Homo sapiens: one gene and its partner. The protein of the gene in region 1 purifies or fractionates together with the protein of each later gene. This does not show direct contact. Each region holds a gene or a part of one and is shown on either strand. Other genes may lie near its edges.

Region 1 (7,669 bases):
AAATGATCTCAAGATCATTTCCCAGTTCCAAGCGGCAGCCAGATAGAAAATAAAGCTGAAGTTTAGATGCTGTAGCCATATGTTTATAATATAACTTATATTTATAACTAAACTCACTTACAGGATGATAGTTATGTAATTTGAGGATTTACGAGATAGTATAGTCTTGTGGAAAAAGACCTGCATTTGAAATCAAGGGGTTCAAGTCACTTTCTTGCCATTTATCAGCTGTGTGATTTTGGGCAGGTGAGTCTATTTTCTCATCCAAGGATAGGGTTAAAAATACCAATCCTAGACTCTTCCACAGGCTGAGGGCACAAGTTTAAGTGTTGGTGTGACACTCATGCTAAAGGAAATGAGGTACCATGTGTGGAAAAATGGAGGGAGATGAGCAAATTAGCAGTTGTGGGTACGTGTGTGGGGTCCCACGGCTGGGGGATGAAAGCTTTGTCTACCTCACAAAACAGACTCTTCATTCATGAGGAGCTTATAATCTTGACAAGATAGACACTCCTTTCTGATGTCTTGGAAAATATGCGGTGAAAAAGATCTACTTTATAATCCCATTCAACTGTGGATTGAACTGAAGAGTCAAGGAGTCCAAAGTGGTCAGCCTGAAAATTCTGAGAAGATACAACTGTGCAAGCAGAAATCTGATGAAGGGAGATGGAGTGGGAGGTGAAATGGTAGGCTTAGGTGCTGGGGTGGAAGCCAAGCTATGTTACTCTTGTCATCTGGGGTGGGAGGTCCCACTTGCAACCTGATGGGCTATACTCAAGGAAAAGTGCATGTATGGTGGGGAGGGGCAAAAGAAGATGACACCCTTCCACAGGCTAATTTACAGGAACATGGACAGGGGAGAATCCCCTTTATGGACCACAGGTCATGCATGAGGATGATTAATATTGAACCTCTTTGATAGTGCTTTCTAGACACTATCACAGTTTTGGAGAAAAGTAGAAAACATTATCTCTGCCTCCTAGAGTTGGTGTTATAGAGAGGCAAGGCAACCTACCTGAGATAACTGCTTCTGCATTCTAGTCCTGTTGGAAGATGGTCTGACAAAGTTAGTTTCTTTTGATTTATTCTAACAACTCAAGTTGAGGTATCTGGCAGTAGGGTCAGGTGTCTAAGGCACAACATTTAAGGAGGCACTGACTCACAATGTCTTATTCTCAGTGCACTCGCTCTCAGTGCCTCCTTAAATTTTGCCTCCTAAAAGCCCTGCTTGCCTCATCCCAGTCCAGACTCTGCCAGGAGGACTTTTTGAGACACACCCATTGGGAAGCCAGGAGGGCACGTTTTTTACTTACTGTCACCACTTGATTCTCTCTCCCCCAGTTCTCCTTGAAGTCTGTCATTCTGGCCAGGATTATTTCTAGCATATTGCCACCTGGGCAGTACTTCATGGTGGAAGTTTCAGCAGGAGTTTTATGAAGCTGCGTCTATGAAAACGTTTTCAAAGGCAAACACCCAGGGAAGACAGAAACTACATGGTTTTGACAGGATTTGATTTTCTACCCAGAGTCCAATTTTGCCGGATTACATCAGTGGCTCCAGACTTTCTGTGAGGAGTTATTTCTCATTTTTCTGAAGCTCTGACTTTCCTGGGTAAAAATGCTATTATTGGTGGAGAGAAGAATTGGAGGGTAAGGATGAGACAGTAAAGTCCCTAAGATAAAGAGGGAATGAAGCACAGGGGCCGTGGCAGGCCGGGTGAGGACAGCGGGTAGAGTGGTGGCAAGGAGCTTGGAAATCTCCCAGGTAAGAGCTGAGCATCTATCTACCTGTAAGACTAGAATCTCTCTGCTTGACACAGTGAGCACTGGACCCTTTCTCCATTGATTCATGCCATTCTCTCCTTCCATAGGAGGCCAGCATCTTCAAAACAAAGCAGCTATCAAAAGCCCTTTCTTCCTTCTTCCCTCCCTCTCTCACTGTCTGGGTAGCTCACGTGCCCCTCCTTCCATCTTTATGTTAAACTTTCCTTTCTATATATCATAATCCTATATGAATGACTGAATTTACTTTTTGATCCTGGAAAAATTCAGTTGCTGAATTAAACAGATTAAAACAGTTTACCAACAGAATACAGTGTCCCTATATTACCTTGTCACTTTGCAATTAGAGTACTTCATCATTTCTACACACATCATATATTTGATGCAACTCTGTGCCTTAGGTAATATTATTGTCCCCACTTTATGGATTAGAAAACTGAGGCTCAGAGAAATGGTGACATTTTCAAGGGTAGCCAACTGGTAAGTGCTGAGTTTGGGACCAGAACTCAGCTCTTTGAATTCCTATTTCAGAACTTTTTCTTACTGCTACTCCAGTCAACCCAAGGGTGGGCCCTGCAGAGTAATAAGAATGCATTCAATCAGCTTCACCCAACTTTTTCTCCCATTCTGACCATCTTTTGAGTTCACCTTTTCTGGAGCCACTTCAATCACATCCTCTTCCCCACACCCAATCAAGCCCTCACCTGAGGGGTCCATATGGAACACTATTAAGAAGATGGCGAAGTCCAGGAAAGAGCAGTTGCACTTCCAGGGGTTTCCACTCAGAAACAGGGTCTCCAGAGTAGTGAGGTGGTATAAGGCAGCACTGTCCAGGGTCTGCAAGCCGGTATTTCTGAGGTCCAGGTACCTCAAAGAGGTGGTGTTGGCAAAGGTGAACTTGTGAAGCGATAACAGGTGAGGGTTGTTGGCAATGTTCAGCTGCACCAGGTTGCTGAGCACCGAGAAAGTGAATGGGGAGATCGAGGTTAGGTTGTTGGAGCTGAGGTCAAGGTAGATGAGTTTGAAGACCCCGATGAAGGTATAATCCATCACCTCTCGAATCCGGTTGTTCTGACAGTCCAAATAAACAAGGTCACTGAGGAGTCCTAGATGCATTGCTGGCAAACTAGTGATTCTGTTCTCGTTCAGGAACAGCCTCCGGGTGTTCAGGGGTATGTCAAGGGGGTATTCGGTTAACTGCTTCCCTGTGCAGATTACTTCTTGGGCTTGACACAGACAATTATTTGGACACTTTGACCCTGATACCAGCCCCATTCCAAAGGAAAAGAGTAACCACCCAGGGCCAGGGCCTGAAGCAAGGGACATAGTAAGAAGCCACAACCACCCTCCTTTCACCTTCCTGCGGGCTCTGTCCTCTGATCCGAAGGCTGCCGGTGGGGGGGTGGGGCGGGGGAGGGGCTCTGGAAAGAACTGTAACACTTTAGCTTTGTGCAAAGCAATTTTCCATTACAGGAGAACTGAACAGAAATTGAAACGCGAGGCTCAATGCCCTGCCGCCCAGCTTGGTGGCTCTGTCGCTCGCTCCCAGACTGCTGCTGGAAGCTTGCCCACTTGGCAGCTTTGAAAGGTCTCACCCTTTCCCTGCGTTTGCAAGTGAAGGGGAGCCAGGGGAGAGCCACATGACAATGAGGTTGCCAGTTGACACCTTTGTGATGTCAGCAGCCTCAGGAGACTGCCTGGCTGAGGGAAAGAGATTCCTCACCTCTCCTTCTGGGTGGTGTGAGGGTGTTTTATGTGTCTTGGTAAGCCAGCTGGAACTCCCTGGGGGAGTTGGGGCCTCATGGGTAGGGGCCTGCAGCATGTGTGTGTTGGAGACCAGGCTGGGTTCAGTGTGTGGATGTGTATAGTATCTGTACCCGCTCCCCATGGAGCTGTAGTAGATTAGGTGACATTGGACCCCCTAATCTGCAGGCCATAGAGGGAACATGGGACATCTCCAGGCCAACTCCTTTTCTTAGTGATGAGCAGTGACTTGCTTGAGGTCAGTTCTCAGTGTGGGTCTTTTCTTGGATATTGATTTGGATGGGTGCCAGTTTTTCAGTGTTGCCAGAAGAAGATGGGAAAGGGGGTGTTTCTTTTGAAATGAGGCAAGGGGAATTCCTCTGATAAAGTGGTACTCTTTTCAGACTTTATTCCTAGGATGTATACATCTCTGTCTGCATTTTGAATATATATATATGTGTATTTTTAAAAAGTTTTTGAATAAGTGTAAGCTACTCCTTCTAACACAAAACCCAAATGTATATATAAAAAATCTGAGTGCAACAATAGAAGTATTTTTTTACCACTCGTATTCTCCTAGGACTTTTAAAATAGTGAGTGCCTCTCTAGTACTTCTAGTGTGAGTTTATATTCATTAATTACTTGTCAGGTGATTAGTCTTTTGGAGCGAGGGATAGAAAACCTGGAAGCTGAAGAGTTGGGATGTATCACACACCCCGTGGAGGAAGGCATATCAGGCAGAAATAAGATAAAACATCTGAGGAGTTGAAACTTTTATTTTTGGGAAAATTGGATTTCATTTTTTAAAAACATTCATATATACTGAGTTGTGAATATTAGTAACATATTGAAACCTAAGCACAGTGCCTGGCACCTGGTATGTAATAAATGTATAGTGAATGAACAATGTGAGAATGTTTCTGATGGTTTGCTTCCTTCTCTTGCTTCTTTGCCAAGAGAGAAATTAATAAAGTCAGATGGATTTGTGGCTAGTTAGCTAATGCTTGATTGTTTACTTACTCAGCATTCCTTGGGTGACTGGCTGTGAATTAATATGATGACTTAGGCGTGTTTACCAAATTGAAAGTGACCTTATTTAAGTAGACATTTCAAATACTTAAAGTAATGACCCCAATGATAGCTGTACTAATTGAAGCATGACTTAATTGATAGGGCAGACACCCTTTCCTCATAATTAAAACAAATTCTATTAAAATATAAGTTCCTTTCTAGATCTTATGTGATTGCCGAGGAGAGAAATCTAGCACATGAAGTCTATAGAAAAGAATTAATTTCCAAAGTGACTGCTCTGGGAGCTGTGGCGAGGGTGTGTTTTGCTGGTGGAGTGTGGCAGGGATACTTTGTTTGGAAGGGCTGTGTTTGTTGTCTGCTTCCTTTCCATGAGAAATGATCACTGATTCACTCGCCAAAGCTCATGGAGTGATTTTGCTGACGTGTCACCTTTTCTTTTATGCCATTCTCCCTCTTTCTGACTTCTTCCCCTCAGACGGCCCCATCTCCAGGTTGCCCTACTTCATTTCCAGCCTCATTATCCATACTAGCTTTCTCAAGATAGTAGTCTCAGGATTAGGCCTACCTGTTTGGCCGTATGGTTACAAGTGCTCTGCTTAGAAAAGCCTTAGGTAAATATATCATGCTAAAGGTTATTGACTGACACCAGTCAGCTATGCCTGGCTCTGGAGTATTACCATTTTCACAAAGCACTATGAGTGGTTTAACCTCAGGGAATATTCTTTTTGTTTGAGGTAGCTGTATTGTTTTTGGTCCTGAAACCTGGACACTCATGGGCTAGTTTCAGCTTTGCCAGGTTAGACCACATCTCTAAAGTGTGTACCTCATTTTGAGACTGAATAAATATATGTTCGATAAAGAAGAAGCAGACTAGACAAAGAAAAGAGAATGTAGCATTGCTTGAATTACCTGATTTCAGAACCTTAAATAAATTTTGTTTTCAAAGAACAACTTGTGAAACTATTATTTCAGAAATCCTGCTTTGGGAAGTCCTAGACTAGGCTGTTTGTTCTTGGTTGAGGTGCTTAATTTCTCTGGGCTTTATTTCTGTCATCTACATATTGAGGGAAATGAAGTAGATAATTTCCAAGTGTCTTTAGGACTTCCAAATTCCTTCATAATGGAAAGGTTTCAGGCATCACCCAGCAAACCAGTAGAGGCTGGAGTGCAATGGCACGATCTTGGCTCACTGCAACCTCTGCCTCCCAGGTTCAAGCTATTCTTCTTGCTCAGCCTCCCAAGTAGCTGGGATTACAGGCCCCCACCACCATGCCCAGCTAATTTTTTTTGGTATTTTTAGTAGAGTGCAGTGGTGTTATCTTGACTCACTGCAACCTCTGCCTCCCAGGTTCAAGTGATTCTCCTGCCTCAGCCCCCCGAGTAGCTGGGATTACAGATGTGCGCCACCACACCCAGCTAATTTTTGTATTTTTAGTAGGGACAGGGTTTCACCATGTTGGCCAGGCTGATCTCAAATTCCTGACCTCGTGATCTACCCGCCTCGGCCTCCCAAAGTGCTGGGATTACAGGCGTGAGCCACTATGCCCGGCCGCCTTTCTACTCCTTCTAATCACACCATATAGTCCCACCTATCATGTGGCTGCAAAAAGGACAATCTCTCTACCCAGTGAGCGGCTCATGCAGCTTCAGATGCAGCATGGTCGCCCTTCGTGTGTGTGGCTGTTTTATTAGCCTGCCCCTGCCCCTTGGATAGCTGGTGTGCCCATCCTTCCAGGAGGACAGGTGAAGCATCAAGTGAGCACTTGGAGAGGCCCCTCCTGTCTCATACAATCGCGCTAGCTGACTCTGCTCTCAGGCAGGCTCCTATTTTTAGCTGTATCTGATGGAGGCACTGTCTTCCCAGCTTAATGATCCCTCTCAGGTGCCAGTGTGCCTCCAAACAGCTCTCTGGTGATCCAAAGGACAGGTGGGCACAGGCCCTGATATCATACAAAGAAGAGGCTGGGTGATATAGGGCAAAGTGAACACAATTGAGAAGCTGAGGCAGTATGACATCGTGCCCTCTCAAAGCCCTGATTTTCTTTCTGTAAAACAAGACAGGACGCTCTCCAAAGGCTTTCCCAGTTTTAAAGTTCCATCAAACTTCAGTTGTGAAGGGAGAGAACAGATGATTGAAGCGTCAAAGCCCAAGCAACTAAGACAGAGTCAAGCGATTACAAAGCAGACCATGAATGTTAGCTAGTAAATAGTCCACTCAGCTGTCTGGGTACAAGTGCTAAGGGATATTTAATTTTGGCATGCTTTTATTTTCTCAGGAGAAAAATAGCAGAAGGAAGTGCACATGCCATTTTATTCCATTGAAACTGCCAATGTGCTCAACTTAGGACTTACATGGGGTTAGCAACGTAGGGGCACACAAGTCAGTACTTTGTTAAACTGCTCCCCAGGCAGGGAATGTTGTGGGTTCAGGTCTAAAGAATGTAACAGTCTCAAGGACTTTGGTGTAGGAGCCACTTATGGTATCCAGTTCACTCCAGACTTTTGACACTGCCTGGGCCCTCTTCAGCAAACTCATCTCTCAGCAGGTGTGGGGCTTGGGGACAAAAAGTTCAGCCTGAAAGTGGAAAAAGAGTTCCAAAACATGCCGGGAAGGCTGAGGCCTAAGGGCTGAATATGTGTGTATCTGTCTATTCATGAGCCTTGGTTCTGTTTGCTGTGCCAGCTGGTAGAAACTATTTTTGTCTTTTCCCTTCAGGCTGCCGGAGTCTCCACTAGGGAGATTGGACTCTAACAGAGTAAAGGCCAGAGGGCCAGAGGAAATCACTCCCATTTGTTGCATTCCCCAGGGATATCTTTGATTTCCAGGCTTCATCCGCATTCTATACTTCTGCAGGATTCACTGTCCAGAGGAATCCAAGGGGAAGCCTGTAAATTGTATACCCTTTTTAGGGGCAGAATTAGATCATGTTTTCAGCTTATAGCAAATCAATAAACTGTTGCCCATGGCTAAGATTATGTGTAGCAGTCCTTATGCCTGAAACTTGATTTGAGACTGCCAATAATGGTGGCTGTCTAAGCCCAGTTGATTTGGGAAGAGAATATGGACCCTTTATAGGAGACTTGTAGATTTCAGAATGGGAGAGAAAACTGTG
Region 2 (7,583 bases), on another chromosome or scaffold:
ATTCTGCCTTTTTTTTTTTTTTTTGAGACAGAGTCTAGCTCTGTCACCCAAGCTGGAGTGCAGTGGCATGATCTTGGCTCACTGCAACCTCTGCCTCCTGGAGTCAAGTAATTCTCCTGACTCAGCCTCTTCAGTAGCTGGGATTACAGGTGCACGGAACCAGGCCTGGCTAAATTTTGTAATTTTAGTAGAGACAGGGTTTCACCATGTTGGCCAGGCTGGTCTCGAGCTCCTGGCATCAAGTGATCCGCCTGCCTTGGCCTCCCAAAGTGCTGGGATTACAGGCATGAGCCACCATGCCTGGCCTGCCTTTTCTTAAATTAGAAGCCAAGGTGGAAGAATTGCTTGAGACCAGGAGTTTGAGACCCCAGCAAGACCTCACTGCTACAAAAATAAGGTAATTAGGGTGTCACAGTGCACACCTGTAGTTCCAGCTGCTTGGGTAGGCTGAGTGGGGAGGATCACTTGAGCCCAGGGGTTGGAGGCTACAGTGAGCTATGATCACGCCACTGGACTCCAGCCCAGGTGACAGAGCGATACCATCTCTAAAACAAAACAAAACAAAAAACACCCAATTATGAAAAATCCCAAGCACTCCCAGCCTGGCCAACATGGTGAAACCCCGTCTCCACTAAATATACAAAAATTAGCCAGGTGTGGTGGCGTGTGCCTGTAATCCCAGCTACTCGGGAGGCTGAGGCAGGAGAATCGCTTGAACCCAGGAGGCGGAGGTTGCAGTGAGCCTAGATCGTGCTGCTGCACTCCAGCCTGGGAGACAGAGCGAGACTCCATCTCAAAACAAAACACCAAGCAGCCCGACCGCAGTAGGGCCTTCTTCCTATTGGGCAGCACTCGCTGGGGCTGGGAGGAGGCTGTGTCCCCTTTGGACAGGCACATCCTGGAGCTGGGAGGAGACTGTCTCCTTTGGACAGGGACATCCTTGCCAGTTCACCACGGTCGCCGCTCTTTCCTCTTTGCTCACTGTGTTTCTTAGTACACATGTTTGAGTTTGCAGCTGACTCAGAGTAAGAGATGGAGAGGAGGTTCTGGAGAATTCATAAGGGGCAGGGACATATGGCGGCAGGCAGGCTGGAGAGCTGCCTCTGCTGGGCACGAGTCAAGGGTTCAAGGCTAAGTGAGCCCCGCTCAGGTCCCACACAACCCCAGCAGTGGTCCCGATGGACGGTCTGCATCTCTCTACCAGCCTTCTCCCTCTACTCAGAGGGCCAGAGAGCAGCTCCCTGCCCCTCCCAGGACATAGCTTGGGGGAGGATTCGCAGCGTGGTCGGCCAGGCTCCTACCTGGATCTCCTCCTGGTACATCTTCAGGCTCAGGTCGCTCTTGGTCCTTGATCGCCGTCCCAGAAACACCATGGAATGTTGCTAAGGAAGAGCAGAGGCTGCAGGGCTCGGCTGCAGATATTCAGGTCCCACCCCTGGTGCCACAGTTGGCGTCTCCCACTTCTCTGGCTTTTGCAACTGTGTCACTCAAAATGTTACCAATATCTGAGGGAAGGGATTATGCCACCCACACTGAAACCTGCCTCCCTCCTTCGGACCAGGGCCTGGGCTCCTCACCTGGTATCTCTCCATCTGGGAGAGGGTCTCCAGCAGCCTGGTGACATCCGAGGAGGCCCCCCGTGCCTCCCGGTAGAGCTCCAGGACGGCAACCAGCTCTTCTTTGGAGATTTCCTTCTCAAGGGTGATGCCACCATCAACTGCAGGGATGGAAGGCAGGTGTGGGAAGGGCCCGGGGCTGCAGCTGCCAACCTGGCTGGGTCTCGTACCTCCTTGCCCCCTTCCGCAGGGGGTCTTAAGGTTCTCTCTCTAAACCGACACTGCATTGGTGTCCTGCTCTCCTCGTTGGCCCTCCTTTCCCTTCCCCTCCCTCTGCTGTGATGTCAGGAGCGCAGGTCTAGCTGGCAGCTGTTACAGGGCCAGAGGGTTTCAGGAAGGGGCCTCTAAGCACAGAGAAAATGGTCAGATGGTCTGATAGCACAGAGATCTGAGGATGAGAGGTAACAAGTGTGGGCACAGGGTTTTCTGTTTCTTTTAAGAGACAGGGTCTCACTCCGCTGCCCAGGCTGGAGTGCAGTGGTGTGATCATGGCTCACTGCAGTCTTGACCTCCTGGGCTCAAGAGATCAAGTGCAGACAGTTTTGATGGAGAATTTGGGAAGAAGGGAGGGTCAGCACACAGAAAGCTGTGCAATCTGGGAAGAGTGAGGCAGTCACTAAAGCCAGCACCATCCAGTTGCAGCAGGAATACGATTCGCCTGTGCCATAAGCAATATTTACACCATTTAAATCAAGAACCGTAGTGTGAACCTATTATTGAGAAACGTGGAGATGACTAACAGAAGAAATAGCCAAGAAGGAGAAGCCTCTGGAGGACGGGAGGGAAAGGCAGGGCAGGGGCTGCTGCTGCCACATAAGCCTTTCTCTACTTCTTGATTTTTCTCCAACTATGACATGCTCTGTCTTATTTTAAAGTTAGATTACGTTTTCTGACATTAAATATTTGAAAATCAATGCAAATACAAGATCTAGAAAGACAAGCCAGATAGATAAGCTGGACAGCCAGACAGCAGAAAAATGACAGCCTGATGGCTGGCTGGACAGCCACCCAGACAGACAGACAGAGCTGGGTAGGCGGCAGATATCAAATGCCCAAGGCATCATCCCTGCACAGACCTTCCGAGTCCTGGTTCTTGCGGCTGTAGTTCATTCGGAAGACGAAGGCCTCGAGGATAAAGGCGACAATGATCGTCATCACCACCTGGCCAGGGATAGGGAGGGAGGGGCAGAGGCAGGGGAGGAGGGTGGGTAGGTGTCCGTGGCTGCGCAGCCCACGCCCAACAGAGTCCGGCCAGATGGGACCCAGCCCCACTCCCTGACGCTGCAGGCTGAAGAGCAGGGGCAGCTGGTGATGTGGAAGACGAAGGACAAAGAGCGTTCTGTGGTCCGGGACCTACCATGGTCACAATGTAAAAGGTCATGAAGTAGAGGCGGCTCCAGTGGGAGGTCTGAGAGGTGACGCCTTCCTGGAGACCAAGGGAAGCAGCCAGTGAGGGGGTGCCCATGCAGGGCAGGTCCCCGTCTACACAGGCTGCTCCATGGCCCCGGCTCTTCGCAGACCCCACCGTGATTTGTGGCTGGTTGTGAGAGATGGAGGAGAGGAAGCTTGCCCCTCTGGGCCTAACACTAATTCCTGACTGCTGAAGGAGCCCTGGCCACTCCCCTGGACGACTGGATCCAGAACCAGGGCAGCCTTTATCCCAGTAGGGCTGGGAGTCGGGAAAGTTTAAGGAATGGAATAAAGAGATCAGCAATGCTCGCCACTTTGTCACTAGAGGGAAAAGTCATCTCTACAGTGGGCGAGACAGGACAGAGACCCAGAGTCTAAGTGGCATCTCCTGGCTGCTGGGGACATGCAGGGAGATGGGAGTAACAGCCGAGTCCAGCCAACACTGGGAGGGGTGGCTCCTGGGGCCCAGCCATCCTGTGGCCTCCCCACTGAACACCAACACAGCATGACTCAAGACCCCCAGCCCTGCAAGCTACGGGAAGAATTATATACTCTGGGTTGGGGGAGACCCAGGGCCGACCCCAGGGCTGGCGGGAAGATACCCCCAGAGCTGCCCGAGCTCTTACCATGATGATGTACCAGTTGTTGACAACTGTGAGCTCAAACAGGGTCACTGCCGAGGGAAGAGAGAAAGAAGCATCCTGATGAGACCCCACTTCAAAGTCAATTTCAAGTGGCCTCTTGCCACCTATCCTGGGTGCCATGTGCTAAGATGAGAGGGTCACCATATGACCGCTTGGGTTGTGAGCTCCAGGAAAGACCAGGCAAGGCACTCCTAGGGCGCTGGCTCCACAGGACATCATGGCCTGCCCCCAAGAGAACACACCCTCTGCCTCAGCAGCCTGTGCCACATCAGACTATCTGGATCTTACTGGGTGCAGATCTGGGGTGTCATGGGGGCACACCCTTTTTCTGGAGAGGCGGTTTGGCTGTGTTCGCCTCTTCATGGGAGTGGGCAGAGGGCTGTGTGCAGTCTGAGCCAGGGGGCAGTGCAGCTGCAGCAGCAGTGGTGTGGCTGGGTCCCATTCTGCAAGTGGCACTGTGATGAGGGGACCCCGCCCAGCTAAGGCTTGCAACTCTTGTCCTCCCCGGTACTGAGAAAATATCAGGAAAGAGTGGAATCAGGCAACTGAGTGAGCTCCAGGATCCAGCCTGGACTGTACTGCCAAAGCTGGGCAGACCAAGTCCTCCACCTGGGCCAGGGAGGCTTCCAGAAAGTGTGGCCCAGACACTTGCTACACCACCTCTGGGACCCGTGGTGACAAGGGTGACAAGGGTGGGGTCCCCAGGGAATGTGCCCCCTGTGATTTTTCCCACTCACCAAAGCTGTTGAGGATGTTGTCAAAATTATTGAGATAATAGTAGCCTTCCTCCACCACGGTCCTGTTGCCCACGGTGTGGTTGCGCCAGCGGTAGGCATCTGCCACTGTACTCGTGCTGGCCGGAGCACAAGGGAGAAAGGAGGGAGGGTCACAAGGCGATCAGTCACCTCCAGAGAGGACAGAAGTCTGAAACAAACCGAGTTCTGGCCAAGGATCCTTCTGTTCTGCCCGCAGCCTGGTTTCCTGCCTAACCCTCTCCACCTCATGCCTGGGTCCCTGCTGAAGGAATGCCCTTGGCTATTCCTGCCTGCTGGGCTTGGCGGGATCCCCTGGCCAGCCTGACCCACCTCTGTCACCTGGAAGTTGTCTGCTGCAGGCAGGGCCTTCTCTCTCACCGTTGCTTGCAGGGGAGGGAGGAGAGGCAAGGGCCTCCTCTGCACCTGCCCCATCTAGGATCTGCTCTTGAGGCTGGACACTAGGCCACAGTCCCAGGGAAGGAATTCCCTACTGGGGCTTCCCCAATACTTGGCCTGAGCAAGTATTTGAAAAGGTTGGCCCTGTTTTGAGGAGCTCTTATTTGCCACTTTCCTTCCAATCTTTTATGGCTGTTCTGTTAATATCCATGCTAATGTTTATAAAAGTCTAGTGCTTGGGCCACCAGGGAGCCTCCTCCCACACGCATGCATCAGACACAAGAGTGAGGTCTGGAGCTTGCACTAAGCTCCCTGGTGACTGCAATGGGCTCTAAAGTCTGGGACCCACTGCTATAGGCTTCTGGTTCCAGACCAAGCTTGACACTCAAACTGGGTCTCAAAGCTACCAGTGTCTTTGTAAAACTGTTTCTTCATCGGTGCTTGAGGCTGTAAAGACCAAATGTAAGAGGACTCTCTGAATTGAGGATGAATGAATGGCAGTGTGCAGTGATTTCACTGTGGCGGCTCAGGAGAAAGGGAGTGCTCATGGGAGATTTCACTCTCTGCTCCCCATCCCTGAGCACCATGACCTTCCTGCACGTGTCCGTCTGTCTTATCCTACGATGCTGTCCCTAGAAGACTGGTCTTGGCCCAGGTCCCCAGCCACTCCAGGAGAGAAGTGGGAGGAAGCCATGGGACTTGACCTTGGGACCCAGGCTACTGTGGGGGTGGCCTCCAGCCCTCGGCAGAGGGTGAGCTGACAGCTCCCAACCCTGCCTGGGGGATGGAGAAACAGGGACCCCGAGTCCAGGCCCCTCATTTAGCTCACTGCACTCAACTAAGCCCTGAAAGCAAAGCAAGGTGGTTGCTTAGACAGGAACATCCCCGAGGACCCCAAGGCCACAAGGACACCAATCCTGGCCCTGGCCAGCCCTCTGCCCGGGAAATGCAGGCTGCCTGGGGCTGGGTGGGGCCTACTCACTTGCAGCAGTTGGGGAAGACGATCCCGCAGAAGAACTCCATGCCCACGATGGCGAAGGAGTAGTAAAAGATGAGCAGGGTGAGGCCCAGGCTGTGGGGCGACAGGGGCAGGGTGACGCGGGGCCGGCAGGAGGGAACGGCTCCTCTGCAGCCCCGGCCTCCTCGGACCCGTGGGGCTGACTGCAGGGCCATGCCCCTGGTCGGTTCACCAACTGGAAAGTGCCTGCGGGGAAGGGGCCTCGTGGGGCAGCTCTGGGGTGAAAAACAGCTCAAGTCAGGACGCTATGAACAAATGCCCCTTTCCCAGAGATTCACCCCTTACCTGTGAAGGTAGACTCACAGGTGACCCCTTACCTGTGAATGTAGACACAGGTGGTAAGCGAGTTGACAGCTCCCTGCCCTCCCTACTAAATATGTCAGACAGGTCAGTGGAGAAAAATGGTGCCCAGGAGACCTGTGGTGGTCAAGATTCCAGGCTCCTTGGAGCCCCGTCAGGCCCTCGATTGCAGTCCTTTGTGGAACTCCTTTCCCCCGACTGCCACTCGGCTCCCGCCCCCACGGGGCACTGCCACACGGCACCTGGACCTGCAGGCCAGGGTGGGGGCTGGCAGTACCTGGCCATCCGGGGCAGCAGCTCGAACATGGTGTCCAGCACGTTGCGGTAGCGCTCCTTCAACTTAAACAACCTGAGCGAGGAGGACACCCGTCACCTCCACACACAGGTGCACGCCTCAGCCCCCGCCCTCAGAACATGCCGGCCCCGCCTTCCACACGCCATGCGGTGAAGACAGGTGAGGGCCTCTCCTCCACCTGCGTCCACTCCCTTGGGCGCCACCAACCCTGAGCTGGGCTCAGGTGATTCATGCATGAGGGAAGGGATGGTGGCAGCCCCAGGACACCGGCTGGGCGGGGTCCTTCCACGAAGAGGAGCAGGGCCAGGCCACATCTCCTTGCAGTAGAGCTGCAGGCTCAGACAGGAGCAAGGCCTTGCTCCTGGGAAAGAGCGGGGAGAAGCCCATGTGCCCCGGGGAGCGGGGGCAATGGAGCTCACCAGTGAAGAAGGGTGGCAGGGGGCGGGACGGAGGCGGACACTCAGGAGCAGCCCCAGGCCACCCCCACACGCCAAGGGGGTAGGCTTTTCCTCCATAGACGCCACCACCCCTCCCCGCACCTGCCCCGCCTGTCCCGCCTTGGGAGAGGATGGGGCGGACGTGGATGGGGTTGCAGCTGGAGGGTCAGGAGGCAAGCCCAGGCTCTGAGGGCACAGGACCTCGGGACCCCTCATTAGGAAGAGACACCGTCAGTGGGGCAGGCTCGTCTGGGACTTTCTCCAGTGTCCCTGGGAAACCAGTGGGACCCACACGAGGGTTTTTCTCCATAAGACGCTGAGCCAGAAAAGCACGCAGGGCCCCTGAAAGGCCCTTCCAACCCTCAGACCTGTGGCTCTGTGATCTGTGACTTGAGCATATGGGCTCCTGTCGCTGGTGCAATGCCACCTCAGGTGGGGTGCACATGAGTCATGGGCTGGGTTTCTCTGCCCAGAGGCACCTGGTGCAGTGAGGGGAAGGGCACAGGCAGCCTGCACACCCTCAGGGGTGGGGATGTTGACCCCATGGTGATTCTCCAGGGGGTGACATCTGTGACTCTGGCTTGTGAACCTTCTGGCTCATTCTGGGTCACTTCCCGGATCAATCCTGGGGCATTCCCGTCCTCCCTCTCTTTCTCCCTGTCTCCGGCTCTGCCCTGCCCATCACCTCAGCAGCTGGAGGGGGCGCAGGACC

The links.
Region 2: the proteins of LRRC52 (region 1) and TPCN1 purify together in Homo sapiens (co-immunoprecipitation; 2 studies listed by BioGRID and IntAct, with this or other methods). This does not show direct contact.

The regions. Positions count from the first base shown.
Region 1 is NC_000001.11:165,539,735-165,547,403, reverse strand, and holds the start of LRRC52 (leucine-rich repeat-containing protein 52 precursor), read right to left. Parts: upstream 3,405-7,669; 5' UTR 3,108-3,404; coding exon 2,486-3,107; intron 1-2,485. UniProt on the Homo sapiens protein: Auxiliary protein of the large-conductance, voltage and calcium-activated potassium channel (BK alpha).
Region 2 is NC_000012.12:113,287,068-113,294,650, reverse strand, and holds part of TPCN1 (two pore channel protein 1), read right to left. Parts: coding exon 7,557-7,583; intron 6,489-7,556; coding exon 6,417-6,488; exon of another isoform or gene 6,157-6,416; coding exon of another isoform or gene 6,153-6,156; exon of another isoform or gene 6,125-6,152; intron 6,055-6,124; exon of another isoform or gene 5,992-6,054; intron 5,894-5,991; coding exon 5,804-5,893; intron 4,524-5,803; coding exon 4,408-4,523; intron 3,700-4,407; coding exon 3,653-3,699; intron 3,129-3,652; exon of another isoform or gene 3,043-3,128; coding exon 2,974-3,042; intron 2,778-2,973; coding exon 2,693-2,777; intron 1,718-2,692; coding exon 1,578-1,717; intron 1,383-1,577; coding exon 1,302-1,382; intron 1-1,301. UniProt on the Homo sapiens protein: Intracellular channel initially characterized as a non-selective Ca(2+)-permeable channel activated by NAADP (nicotinic acid adenine dinucleotide phosphate), it is also a voltage-gated highly-selective Na(+) channel activated directly by PI(3,5)P2 (phosphatidylinositol 3,5-bisphosphate) that senses pH changes and confers electrical excitability to organelles.